Homo sapiens: one gene and its partners. The protein of the gene in region 1 purifies or fractionates together with the protein of each later gene. This does not show direct contact. Each region holds a gene or a part of one and is shown on either strand. Other genes may lie near its edges.

Region 1 (3,650 bases):
TGAGTAGTTTTGACAGAGACTATAGAGCCCATGAGACTAAACTATTTAAGAAAATGTTTGCTGACCCTGGTGTGAGTATCACAGAGATGGAATCCCTCGGTATGGAATTGTTGGCTAGTGTGTGTGTAGTCCAAACGTGCACACCCCTCAGTGGGAGCAGGAGAGCCCAGGGAATGATGTACACTCTGTTACCCTCTGCTTGCGAGTGTTTTCTCCAGTGAATCCTTATTTTATATTTGCAGCGCTTGTGTTAGTGGAGCATCTTTGTGCCTACTTTGTACAACAGAGTGTGTGTTTGTGTGTATGTGTGTGAGAGAGAGAAAGTTTGAATAATAGAATCATGAGATGATGTTGGAAATATTATGAAGGGTCAAACCAAAGATTACATTTTCAAAGTTTTATTTTATTCAAAGAGCATTGGGAAGCTAATTGAAATCTATGTGCAAGGAAAGGAACTGGTCTGATTTTCTTTCTTTAAGGAGTTACTCTGGCTGTGGCATGGAAAACAAGTTACAGACAGGCAAGAGTGGAAACAGGAAGCCAGTTAGAACAGCAGCATCACATGGTCCAGGGGAGAAAAGAGAATAGCTTGAACTAGGATGTTGGCAGTGGAGATGGGGAGAAGTGAGCAGACATGAGACTTATTTTTGAGACAAAACTAAAAGGAATTATTTGTGAATGAGATGTGAGGGTAGAGGAAAAGAAGGAGATACTACATTGAAATAAGTTCCATCAGAAAAAAATTGATTAAACATTTAATCCAAGAAGTCAAATTATTCGACTGTTGAGCAGATGCTTACCCCTAAAATAAAATTTTAGGAACACTAGCAAAAAAATCCTGGTCAAAAATGCCTAAGCATTATTAGTAAGAGTTGTTCTTAATTGATCATAATAAAGTTATATTCCTCTGAATTAGTACTAGTCATATACACTTAATCTTTTTTAGAAAACATGAAGGACCTTCACACATCATAGCAGAATTCTTTTTTGTGTGTTTTTATTCATTAGTAATTCATTAGTTTTATTCATTAGCCATGAATGGCTCGTGTGAAGCTAAGGTAACTTTTAAAACACCCTACAAAGGCAAAGGTGTGACATAGAAATGACTAAATGCTTAATGTCCTTAATCATGAGTGAAACTGGTGCAGAGTGACTTTATTTTAGAAAATAATTAGACCCGTCCACTGTCTGCTTTGAGTTCCCTTTATAAAAGATAAATATGCAGTCTCAGAAGTTTTCTGGGCCCCTAAACAAATGACTTTAAAAGTGGAGAAGCAGAAAAGAAAAAACTTATAGAAAATAGAAGTTTATGGTACAGTTACCAGAACCTATTCCACCCTATTCCCACCAAAAGCCAAGTACATTTAATCCTTATTTTGCTTATATATGTTAAAATAGAGTCTGACAGAAACTGTGGAGACTCTTTTGTCTCCAGGCATCCTCCATGTCACGGGAATTAGGGAATCCTGAGTTACAAATGACCTATAGGGTGTTTTAAAAAATTATGTGGCTGGGCGCAGTGGCTCATGCCTGTAATCCCAGCACTTTGGGAGGTCGAAGGGAGCAGATCACTGGAGGTCAGGAGTTCAAGACCAGCCTGGCCAACATGACATGAAACTTATCTATACTAAACATACAAAAATTAGCCGGGCTGGTGGCTTGTGCCTGTAATCCCAGCTACTCATAAGGCTGAGGCACGAGAATTGCTTGAACCCAGGAGGCGGACATTGCAGTGAGCTGCAATTGTGCCACTGCACTCCAGCCTGGGTGACAGAGCAAGGCTCCATCTCAATAAATAAATAAATCATTATGGATTGTGTTAAAATTTCTCCCTCAGTTCACCCCATCACCAACAAAACTGAATTCTTCCAACATAAACCTCTAAGTACTCACATCTGTACTTGAAAAGGATGTCAACTTGCTGCCGGCATCTTTTGTTTTTGGTCTTATAAGTTATACAGAATTTAAATATTCTGCTAAGAAATTAGTAGACTCTGCAGGGGAGGAAAAAATTTTTTTTCTCCTATCTAGGTTCTTCGGCTGGGGCCTTATAAGTAAGACTGACAAAACACAAATCAACAAGAGAAAAACAAACATAAGTTTATGAGCATACGCATCATAAATACACATGGGAGCACTGGGAGATGAGTAACTCAAAGGTGTGGTTAGAAGTTAGGCTTACATAGCATCTCAGCTAAAGAATAATAATTTTTTTAGAGAAGTGACAAGACAAAGAAAAAGGACTTTGCATTTCTAGGGTGGGAAACTGTGGGAAAATAAATATTATGGACAAACTAATGGAAGATACAGACTAAAGTTGGTAAAAATTGTTATATAGATTCCTCTGGTGCCATCTCCAGGCGGAAAGGGTTTACAGTTGTCTCTGGTAATTTTACCTCGTCCTCCCTGGTAGAGAGGAGAGGAAGGCTACCCTTGCAAAGTTATCCTGTTTCTATGCAAATAATAGGGGGAAGACAGAGAGCTTTTCTTGTATCTGCTTTTTCTCAATTGCCTTCAGCTGGAAATAATCTTATGCCAAAGTGGCATGTTTAGGGGCAGCAGATTCTGCTACCTTAAAACTTCCTGGGTCCCTGTGCCAACTTCAAAAAGCAAAATGTGGATCTAAACATAGAAGGAGGGACACAAACTTTCTTTAGTTTGCTCACTTATGCGCTTATTTAGAAAGGGCTCTAACTAATTCCAAGGCTTGATTACATGATTGTTTCACAAAGATATTCTAATTCATTTAAAACAAATGAAAGGCATCATGCAGATATTCAGCCTTCAAAAGCCACTCTGCCTTGAGATGTTCCTAAGTGGTTACTGGGAGATGGACCACAGCTTTAGTCTAATATCGCCTACAAACCCACTGTTATTTAGAATTGCATGTTATCAATTGTATCCATAATTTGTATTATTGGAATAGAATTATATCTTTAACTATAGTCTAGGCAAATTTATATATTCTTCACGGCAAGCACAGACGTGTTTCAGCATGGCCAGTTAATTCTTTCAGCCTGGTCTACTGAGGATGGCTAGGACTGCTGTCCTAACACAAAAGAAACTGACAACAGCTAATTTCCTCTAATTGATTTGACTGTGTTACTCATGAAACAAGTGAATGATATTATTAAGTTAATAAGTTAACCATTTAATTTAGAATAAGGCCAGTGTCAAAAGTGACATAAAAGAAGTAATTCAAACAGTTTTATGGTCTCATATTACATGGCTACACAGTTTCACTCAGTCTCTGCCACAAAAAGCTGCAATGATTTCACCGTCTGAAAATGAAATTCATTTGTGTAAGAATATATCCATAAATACATATTCTGTTATATATTTATACAAAGGCTCTTGAAGGAAAGTGTTGTAAACATGCCTGAAAATTATAATGGCTTTACACCTAGTAAAATGTAAATGACAGCTTATCAATTTTGGTCAAAAGTTTTCTTGAGCCTATGGTAAAAATGTGAACGCGAGCAAAGAATCAATCCAGATCAATACGTCAGTTTAAAAGAAAAAAAGTGACTATTGACATATCTGCATTCTGTTTTTTACTTTTTACTTTTATTTCAATAGTAAATTTATGCATTTTCTTTCCCAAAATGATTTAAATATAAATCTGATTCCCCATCTATGTTTGCACCGTC
Region 2 (3,650 bases), on another chromosome or scaffold:
AGATGAATCTCATGCTTAAACTGTGGGCCACATAGAGAGTTCGCCAGAATGCTGGATGCCACAACTAGAGACAATAAAACTACAAACCAAAACAAGAAGTTGTCAACTTCATGCTGTAGACAGCTCCAAGACTGTCAGAACAAGACTCCCTATCATAAGATGCTTATCCCTTTTAATTTTCCCTTACTTGTGCCTACCTCTTTCACTTGGCAGGATAGTGCTGTAGTTAAAACTTCACAATGAGTAGCTTCTTTGGGTAACTTACACTTTCTGCTTTAATTTAACCAGTCATGGAATGCTAGATTACCTGCTAACTCAACAAGGAAGCATCTGTGCAGTTGGGTGACACTTCTTGTTCCACATATATAAATACATCAGGTACTACAGAGAAGACTTCTTGGTTAAAACAGGTAGTCTCCTTGTCAGGCTATTCAATTTTAGTTGGTTTGATTCATGAGAATCCTGGCTAAGGAGCATACTATAAACCCTTGGTATTATCTCCCTGATAGTCATAATAGCAGTCTTCCTGGTACATTATACCCTCTCAAAGTTTTAAATGTTTCCAAAAAGCCACCTGTCAGACATCGAATGGTCTCTCTCTGAAACAACAAAAACTCAGAGACATACATGATAATGAGGAGGGCACCATAAGCTACACATGACCTCCTGAGACCAGAAACCCAAAATGATGGTAACAGAGTAGCACTGATCTCCTACATTTTGTTCACTCTTACCTAGGTGAGAGCCTGATCAAAACGGGGAAAATCATCAAACAAAAATGGTAAAGGCCATTGTTTTAGTCTTCTTGAGCTTTGCCCTCCCAGAGCTTTGCAGCTTTTAGTAGCCAGAACGAAGGAGTAGAGCAGCCTTCGGTGGCTCAGGGGCCAAGCAGCTGTGCCCATCCTGGGGTCATGCAAGGCACAGGCACATAGTAAAATAAAAAATAAAAATAAAAGGCCATTGTTTTAGACTAAGCTCCCGCACTAGACGACAACAGACAAGACTAAAAATCAAAATGGAGTCACTCATGCTAAAGTTTCAAGTTATCAAACCTAAACTAAATTGTTATCTGATACTTGAAGAAATCAGGAGAGAGAGGTAATAGCAAATTTCCTAAAACAGGACAGTTTAAATTTCCAGTTGGCATAATAATAAAGCTTCCTCTGCAATAATCCTCATACAAAAAAGTATCCTGACATGACCTCATGTTAACTAATCCATTATTTTCCTATTGTTCTGTCTCACTGTCTCTGACTTACAAGAAAGTAACTTTGAATGGACTAATATACTCTTTGTTGCTTGCTTTTGCTGTCTTTGGCCTTTTCTGTGTATAATACTGAACTCCTGCTTAGTTCCTTGGAACACTTATTCTGTTTTATGGAATGAAGCAGTGCCAGATTCCAGAACTGCAAATAATGACAATTGAGATCTTTAAAAGAAAAAAAAAAAAGGCCTTCAGACATAATGTGACCACAGTCCCAGATAGGAGAAAGGGCTTACGGGAAAGTCTTACAGGTAGATATGTAGATATATGTATTTACCTTGAAGTGATGCAAAATACACATTCACATCAATTCTTTGGAATTCTTTGACAATCTAAAAATAAAAAAGGAGAGTTTGTAACAATTAACAACCTTATCTGCCCATAATTCAGTAGCATTCAGTTACTTGCTCAGGAGAAACATTATTACTTTCATGGTTAATCAGGACTTTAAGGAAAGGTTATTATTGCAAAACCATGGAGGTTTTCAAACTACAGTAATGGTATAATTAGGATTATATCTCAAGAGATGGCAACATCCAGCGCTCAATAGCACAGCACTTGATAGCGTGGAGGTGCTAAATAAGCATTTGTGGAAAGAAGAGAGTACAGGAGGCTTCTTAATATAGGCCCTGCTGATTGGAGAAGAGATATGGGTGTGGCTATGCTTATCGGGTTCAAAATGTTACTATTGACCTAAAAGTCAAGGCCTCTATTTTGAATGTCAGTGTCCTACTGTGATTTTATGCTACAGTTTTACAAGATGTTACTCATTGGGAGAAACTGGGTAAGGGGTATATAGGATCTAAATATTATTCCTTACAACTACATGTGAATTTACAATTATGTCAAAATAAACATTTAATTTTAAAAAGTCAAGACACAAGACCCATAGTCAATAATAAAAGAGAATTTGAGAATTATGGAGGAAAACAAATCAAGACCTCTGTTCAAGTATAAAGTTTGGAGTCTTCTTTAGCTATCATAACTGTCATTATAATATTTGAAAGTAAATATTCGTTGTGTGGGAAATATTCTGGCATTAAATATGTTAAGACTGTCCCCAAAAGTAATTCATTGAACTCTCTGGCCAATATAGTCTACAATGGATCTCAGCCAATGCTTAGAGTGAAATGTACAACAAAGAACAAGAGTGATTTCAAATGAGCTAATAACAAAATCTGCTAAGAGAACTAGAACAGAACCTGTCAGCATATTCTCATACTCTTTTGCCAAGCACAATCACTTCTCTACCCTACCTACCTAGTACCCACATCCTGGAATCATTTCCTCCCCTTATAGAGGTAGCAAAGAAGCCTTAGCTAAGTGGAACCTCAGTTAGGAGTCAGCTTTATATTATTACATCTGATTGTTGGTGTCTTGACCTGCTTACTTTTCTGCCTGACCCTTTTGATACCTACCTGAAGCTTCACTGAACTTGATGCTTCAGGTGATGTCCTATTCATCTTCTTTGGAGCACTTACTACAATTGTTATTTATAAGATGACTTAATGTTTGCCTTCTCCTCCAGACTGCTAAGTCCCACGTAGGTAGAAACTGTGTCTACTTCATCACTAGTCTCTTGTGCCTGGCAGAGTGCTCAGTACACATTAGGCATTTCACATCTATTTGTTGACAGAATTAATGAACTTCAGCTTGCATAACTGGTTTCTGATATCATTAATGTTTCTATCCTGCATACTCCTCAACTCTTGCTTTGACCTTCCAGATGTCTGACCTGCTTCCTACTCTAACCTCTTAATAATGCCTGGCTTTTCCAGTCCTAACATACACCTGGTATTCCTTATCCTGTTGCTGTTAACATAACAAATAGAAATGTAATACTTAATAAACTTTTGCCCATTTTTTTCTTTTCATATACCACTTGTTATACATTCTCAGAAAGATAAAACATAATAAATGTGAATTAATTTGCTGGGGAGTATCTTTGAACCAGATATTCTTTTTTTTTTTTTTTTTTGAGATGAAGTCTCACTCTGTCACCCAGGCTGGAGTACAGTGGCACAATCTCAGCTGCAACCTCCACCTCCCGGGTTCAAGCGATTCTCCTGCCACAGCCTCCTAGGAGCTGGGACTACAGGTGTGCGCCACCATGCCCAGCTAATTTTTGTATTTTTGGTAGAGACGGGGTTTCACCATATTGGCCAGGCTGGTCTTGAACTCCTGACCTCATGATCCACCTGCCTCAGCCTCCCGAAGTGCTGGGATTACAGGCGTGAGCCACCATGCCCAGCCTGAACCAGACACTCTTCTAAACACCTTATATCTATTAGCTTATTTAATCCTTGTAACAACCTGTGAAGGTAGATACCATCATTACCTCCATATTACAGATGAAGAAACTGAGATATAGACAGATTAAGCAACT
Region 3 (4,351 bases), about 56 Mb from region 1:
CCTCCATGCTGCCTCCTGGACCCCAAGATGGCCCCCACACCAGGCAGCACTCCCTGGCCAAGCCTGCTAATGCTCGTCCTTGTGCCTGCAGATTCCATGTACATCGAGGATCTAGAGGCTGTCCAGAAGCTGCAGGACCTGCTGCACGAGGCACTGCAGGACTACGAGCTGAGCCAGCGCCATGAGGAGCCCTGGAGGACGGGCAAGCTGCTGCTGACACTGCCGCTGCTGCGGCAGACGGCCGCCAAGGCCGTGCAGCACTTCTATAGCGTCAAACTGCAGGGCAAAGTGCCCATGCACAAACTCTTCCTGGAGATGCTGGAGGCCAAGGTGTGATGGCCCCGCACACGGACCAATGCCCACCTACAGACAGACAAACGGACAGACCGAGGTGGAGACCTCCACAGCCACCAGCCTCCACCTTCAACCCCTGTATCATGGCTCTGAGCTGTCCCAGAGGCGGGGGTTTCTCACCTCCTGGCTGTGTGCAGACTCCCGGGTGCAGTGGGGTGGGGGACGGGGATGGGGGGGCAGGGGTGTGGGGCTCGACTGTAACTGGCTTTTTCTTTGGTATGTCTTTCCTTCTCCATGGACGGTGCGGAGGCCTGGGCCAGGGCTGACTCCCTTCAGGAGTGGAGGCCACTGGAGCAAGTGCCCTCTCCCCTCCACCGAGCCACCAAGAGGCAGCATGTGCATTTCCTAACTCCCTTGCCCCCTCCCCCATCTGTGGCCTGGGTGGGCACTGCTCAGGCTGGATACCACCTGGAGGTTTTCCTTCCGCAGAGGGCAGGTACGCAAGGGACAACAGTATCTTTCTTCCAGAGGTCCTACCTGCTCTGAGATCCTCTGGGGCCGGTCAAGAGGCCCCATACCTTCCACAGTTTCCACTCAGCTTTCAGCCAGGGGGTACCCACAGGAGAGCAGCGGCTAGAGCTCAAGTGCTTCCTGGGCACCCCACCCCTCGGGGCCTACCCCCCTGCCTGTCACCCACCGCGCCGGTGTCCACCTGTCCTCCTCCTCTTCTCCTCCCCCCGGGAGTCCCCCGCTACTTCCTGACCCTACCTCAGAGCTCACTCACCCAGTGGGTTCAGCCAGCCACAGCGACTCCAGGGGCTGTAGACAGGAACGCGCTGGCACAGAGAAGAGCGGGGACCACACCATCCTCCCAAGAACCCTCTCCCTCTTCCTGCCTTCCCCCTCTCCCTGAAGGGCAGGTCCAGGCCAAGTGAGCCTGTGAGAAGCTCAGGAGCCTGGCTCCATCCAAGAGCACCCCGGGGGGAGGATCAGGACAGGATGGACAGAGGCCCAGACTCATCTTTGCCAAGCACAGAAAGGCCGAGCAGCTGAGATAAGTAGGCAGGGGAGCCCCAAAGGGAGGGAACTCAGCGGGGTGGCCTGCCTCATCCTTCCTGGCTTCCCTTCCCTGCACTCAGCATCATGCCACAGGGCTAGTGTACCAGTGCCACAGGAGGGGTGCCCTCCTACCACACTTGGGCTACCAGAGGTTTGGTGTAGCTCCCCTGGGCACCGCGAGCACGCCAGCTCTCTGGCAGGACCCCTGCAGTCCCCCTGGCTGTGCCAGGTAACCAACCGTCTTGGTTTGTCCAGGACGTTTCTTTATCCCAGGAAACTCCTCTACCCCAGGCACACGGGGACAGTGGGTCACTCTATTTCTGTGGATGGCCGTGAAAGTTTTCACTAACTCAAGGGGCAGCCCTGAACACCCATTTGTGCTCACAGGTTGGCCAAGAGCAGCTTAGAGGATCTCCCAAGGATGAAAGAATGTCAAGCCATGATGGAAAATGCCCCTTCCAATCAGCTGCCTTCACAAGCAGGGATCAGAGCAACTCCCCGGGGATCCCCAATCCACGCCCTTCTAGTCCAACCCCCCTCAATGAGAGAGGCAGGCAGATCTCACCCAGCACTAGGACACCAGGAGGCCAGGTAACTTTCTGCAGCTTTTCCATAGAAGCCCTGGTCCCACCTCCTTGGCTCTACCCCAGGAACCTCCCGGCCTGGGCTTCTGGGCTGGGACGTGCTGAGGTCATCCCAGACAGGAGGGAGGGCTGGCTGAAATCCACAAACTGCAGAGCAGCTCTCTGATGGTGTCCCACACAGAAAATGTTAAGGATTTCAAGAGCCCTCCCAGACCAGTGATGTGTCCCTCCGGCTCCCCTTGCCTGTGGGGAATCGGGTCTGAGTCACTTGATGAGTAGGCACTGGAGCCGTTACCCAGGATGCTGCGGCCCTAGCCCTCCATGCAGCCCATCTTCCCTCATTTGGGTGGAGGCACACATTTGGGGCAAAGGCCCCTTCTTGGCATCAAGGAACACCAGCTACAAACCAAGTCTAGCACAGTGTTTAGAGGCTCTGCCCTGAGGTTCTGCTCCGGAGAAACCTTCACAGTAGAGACCTTGGGGTGTGTGCTTTGGGACTCCCTCAGTCTCTCACTGTGCTGTGTCCTTGCAGCGGGGCCGAGGTAGCACCCTGCTCTGTCACTTCCTGCTCAAGCTGGAGGACCCAGGCGGCAGGGCATCATGCCCAGCTGGCATCTGCTGTCTGTCTTTTCTAGGGAAAGCATCTCTGGCTCACCATGTAACATCTGGCTTGGAGCAAGTGGGTGTTCTGCACACCAGGCAGCTGCACCTCACTGGATCTAGTGTTGCTGCGAGTGACCTCACTTCAGAGCCCCTCTAGCAGAGTGGGGCGGAAGTCCTGATGGTTGGTGTCCATGAGGTGGAAGCTGCTTTTATACTTAAAACTCAGATCACAACAGGAAATGTGTCAGTAACAATGGAACTCCATCCAATGGGAAAGTTCCTGGTACTGAAGGGGTCCATTGGACACTCAGAAAAGAAGTTCAGGGGCCAACTTCTTAGCTGGAATCCTGGCCAGATGAGGACCCTCTCCGGGGAAGGGAGAGGACTGACTTAGTGGAAGGTGGTGAAGTGAGGAGAGTTTAGGGGAACCTTCCCCCAGTGGAACAGATCTCAAGTTTACCCTAAACCTGCCATTTCTGGAAAATCTGTAAAGAGGAAACAGCCTGTCTCAGCTGTACTCTCATGATACAGGTCATTTGAAATGAACCAAGAAATAAAACATGAAAATCCAACCATGGAGAAGGTGGTATGGCTGGGTTTTGTTTGGTCCCCTTGTCCTTATACGTTCTAAAGTTTCCAGACTGGCTTTGTCACTTTGTGAACTCGTCATGTGTGAAAACCAATCTTTGCATATAGGGAACTTCCTCGGGCCACACTTTAAGAACCAAGTAAGAGGCTCTCAAGACTCCAGCAGAGTCGGGAGGCCATGGCAGCGCCTTAGAGGAGCTGGAACCTGCACCCACCTGTGTCGGTGGGGGGGGCCTCCTTTCCCCATAGACTCTGCCCTCCCTCTGTGCAGATGGAAGTGGCAGGGGAGGGTGACCAGCTTGTGACAAGAAGACTGAAGGGTCCAGAGTCCATGCTCACGGAACAGCACCAAAGAAAAGCACTATGTGGAAAGATTGTTTTATTTTCTAATAATGATAATATGGCTGGAATGGCTTCTTAAGATGTATATATTTTTTAAAATGGCAGTTCCCCATTGCAGCATCACCTACTTGTATGTCTTTCTGCCTCTGTATATGTTCTCCCAGAAACCCCCATGTAAATCAAATGCCCTAGGATGCTTCCATCCTGGTCCCATGTATCTGGAATCTAATAAATAAGGAAAGGAACTATTGAGTTTCTTCACACATTGTCTTTCTGGGCTGACTGTCCCCCAGACAGCACTGCCCTTGGGTTTCAGGCTGAGGCTAGGAGAGGCCGTTGGGAGAGGCAACCCAGCCTTAGTGTTCCCTGGGAAGTCCCATGGTGTCATTTTAAAACATGTTCACCAGCAAAGCTCAGGAATGCAACTGGAGAAGTATGCTGCAGGTCTGAGAAGCTCCCTGTTGCTTTTATGCTTTTAATATTAATGGTAAGGCAATCGATTACTTTCATTAATGCCAGAGAAATGAGATATCAGATATATGTGAATGAAAACCAATTCATTACCTTAGGATTTTGAATTGCATCTGTGACACACACAACACCGGATAGCACAGCCCACATGTTATTCCAGGACACACTCAGGACCAGTGAGAAGCAGAGGGGAGGGCCTGAAAGAGATCAAAGAAGACATTTCAAGATGCCTTTTGTTTCAAGTAAAAGTTACCTTAGCTTATACTGGCTTACTGGATTTATATGTGAGTCCGGAAGTGGGGTAGGCATCAGGCAGGGTTTGATCCAGGGGTTTACAAAGTCAATAGGGTTATGGTTCAGCTTTTCCGATTCCCCCAGTTCTTCTGCGTGTTTGTTTCATCCTTATGCTG

Evidence for each region.
Region 2: the proteins of OR11G2 (region 1) and SLC26A4 purify together in Homo sapiens (affinity purification with mass spectrometry; one large-scale study listed by BioGRID and IntAct). This does not show direct contact.
Region 3: the proteins of OR11G2 (region 1) and ESRRB purify together in Homo sapiens (affinity purification with mass spectrometry; one large-scale study listed by BioGRID and IntAct). This does not show direct contact.

Annotation. Positions count from the first base shown.
Region 1 is NC_000014.9:20,193,750-20,197,399, forward strand, and holds part of OR11G2 (olfactory receptor 11G2), read left to right. Parts: intron 1-3,650. UniProt on the Homo sapiens protein: Odorant receptor.
Region 2 is NC_000007.14:107,702,277-107,705,926, reverse strand, and holds part of SLC26A4 (pendrin), read right to left. Parts: intron 1,597-3,650; coding exon 1,542-1,596; intron 1-1,541. UniProt on the Homo sapiens protein: Sodium-independent transporter of chloride and iodide. Mediates electroneutral chloride-bicarbonate, chloride-iodide and chloride-formate exchange with 1:1 stoichiometry. Mediates electroneutral iodide-bicarbonate exchange.
Region 3 is NC_000014.9:76,498,123-76,502,473, forward strand, and holds the end of ESRRB (steroid hormone receptor ERR2), read left to right. Parts: intron 1-91; coding exon 92-336; 3' UTR 337-603; coding exon of another isoform or gene 604-840; 3' UTR 841-1,740; coding exon of another isoform or gene 1,741-2,103; 3' UTR 2,104-2,572; coding exon of another isoform or gene 2,573-2,599; 3' UTR 2,600-3,715; downstream 3,716-4,351.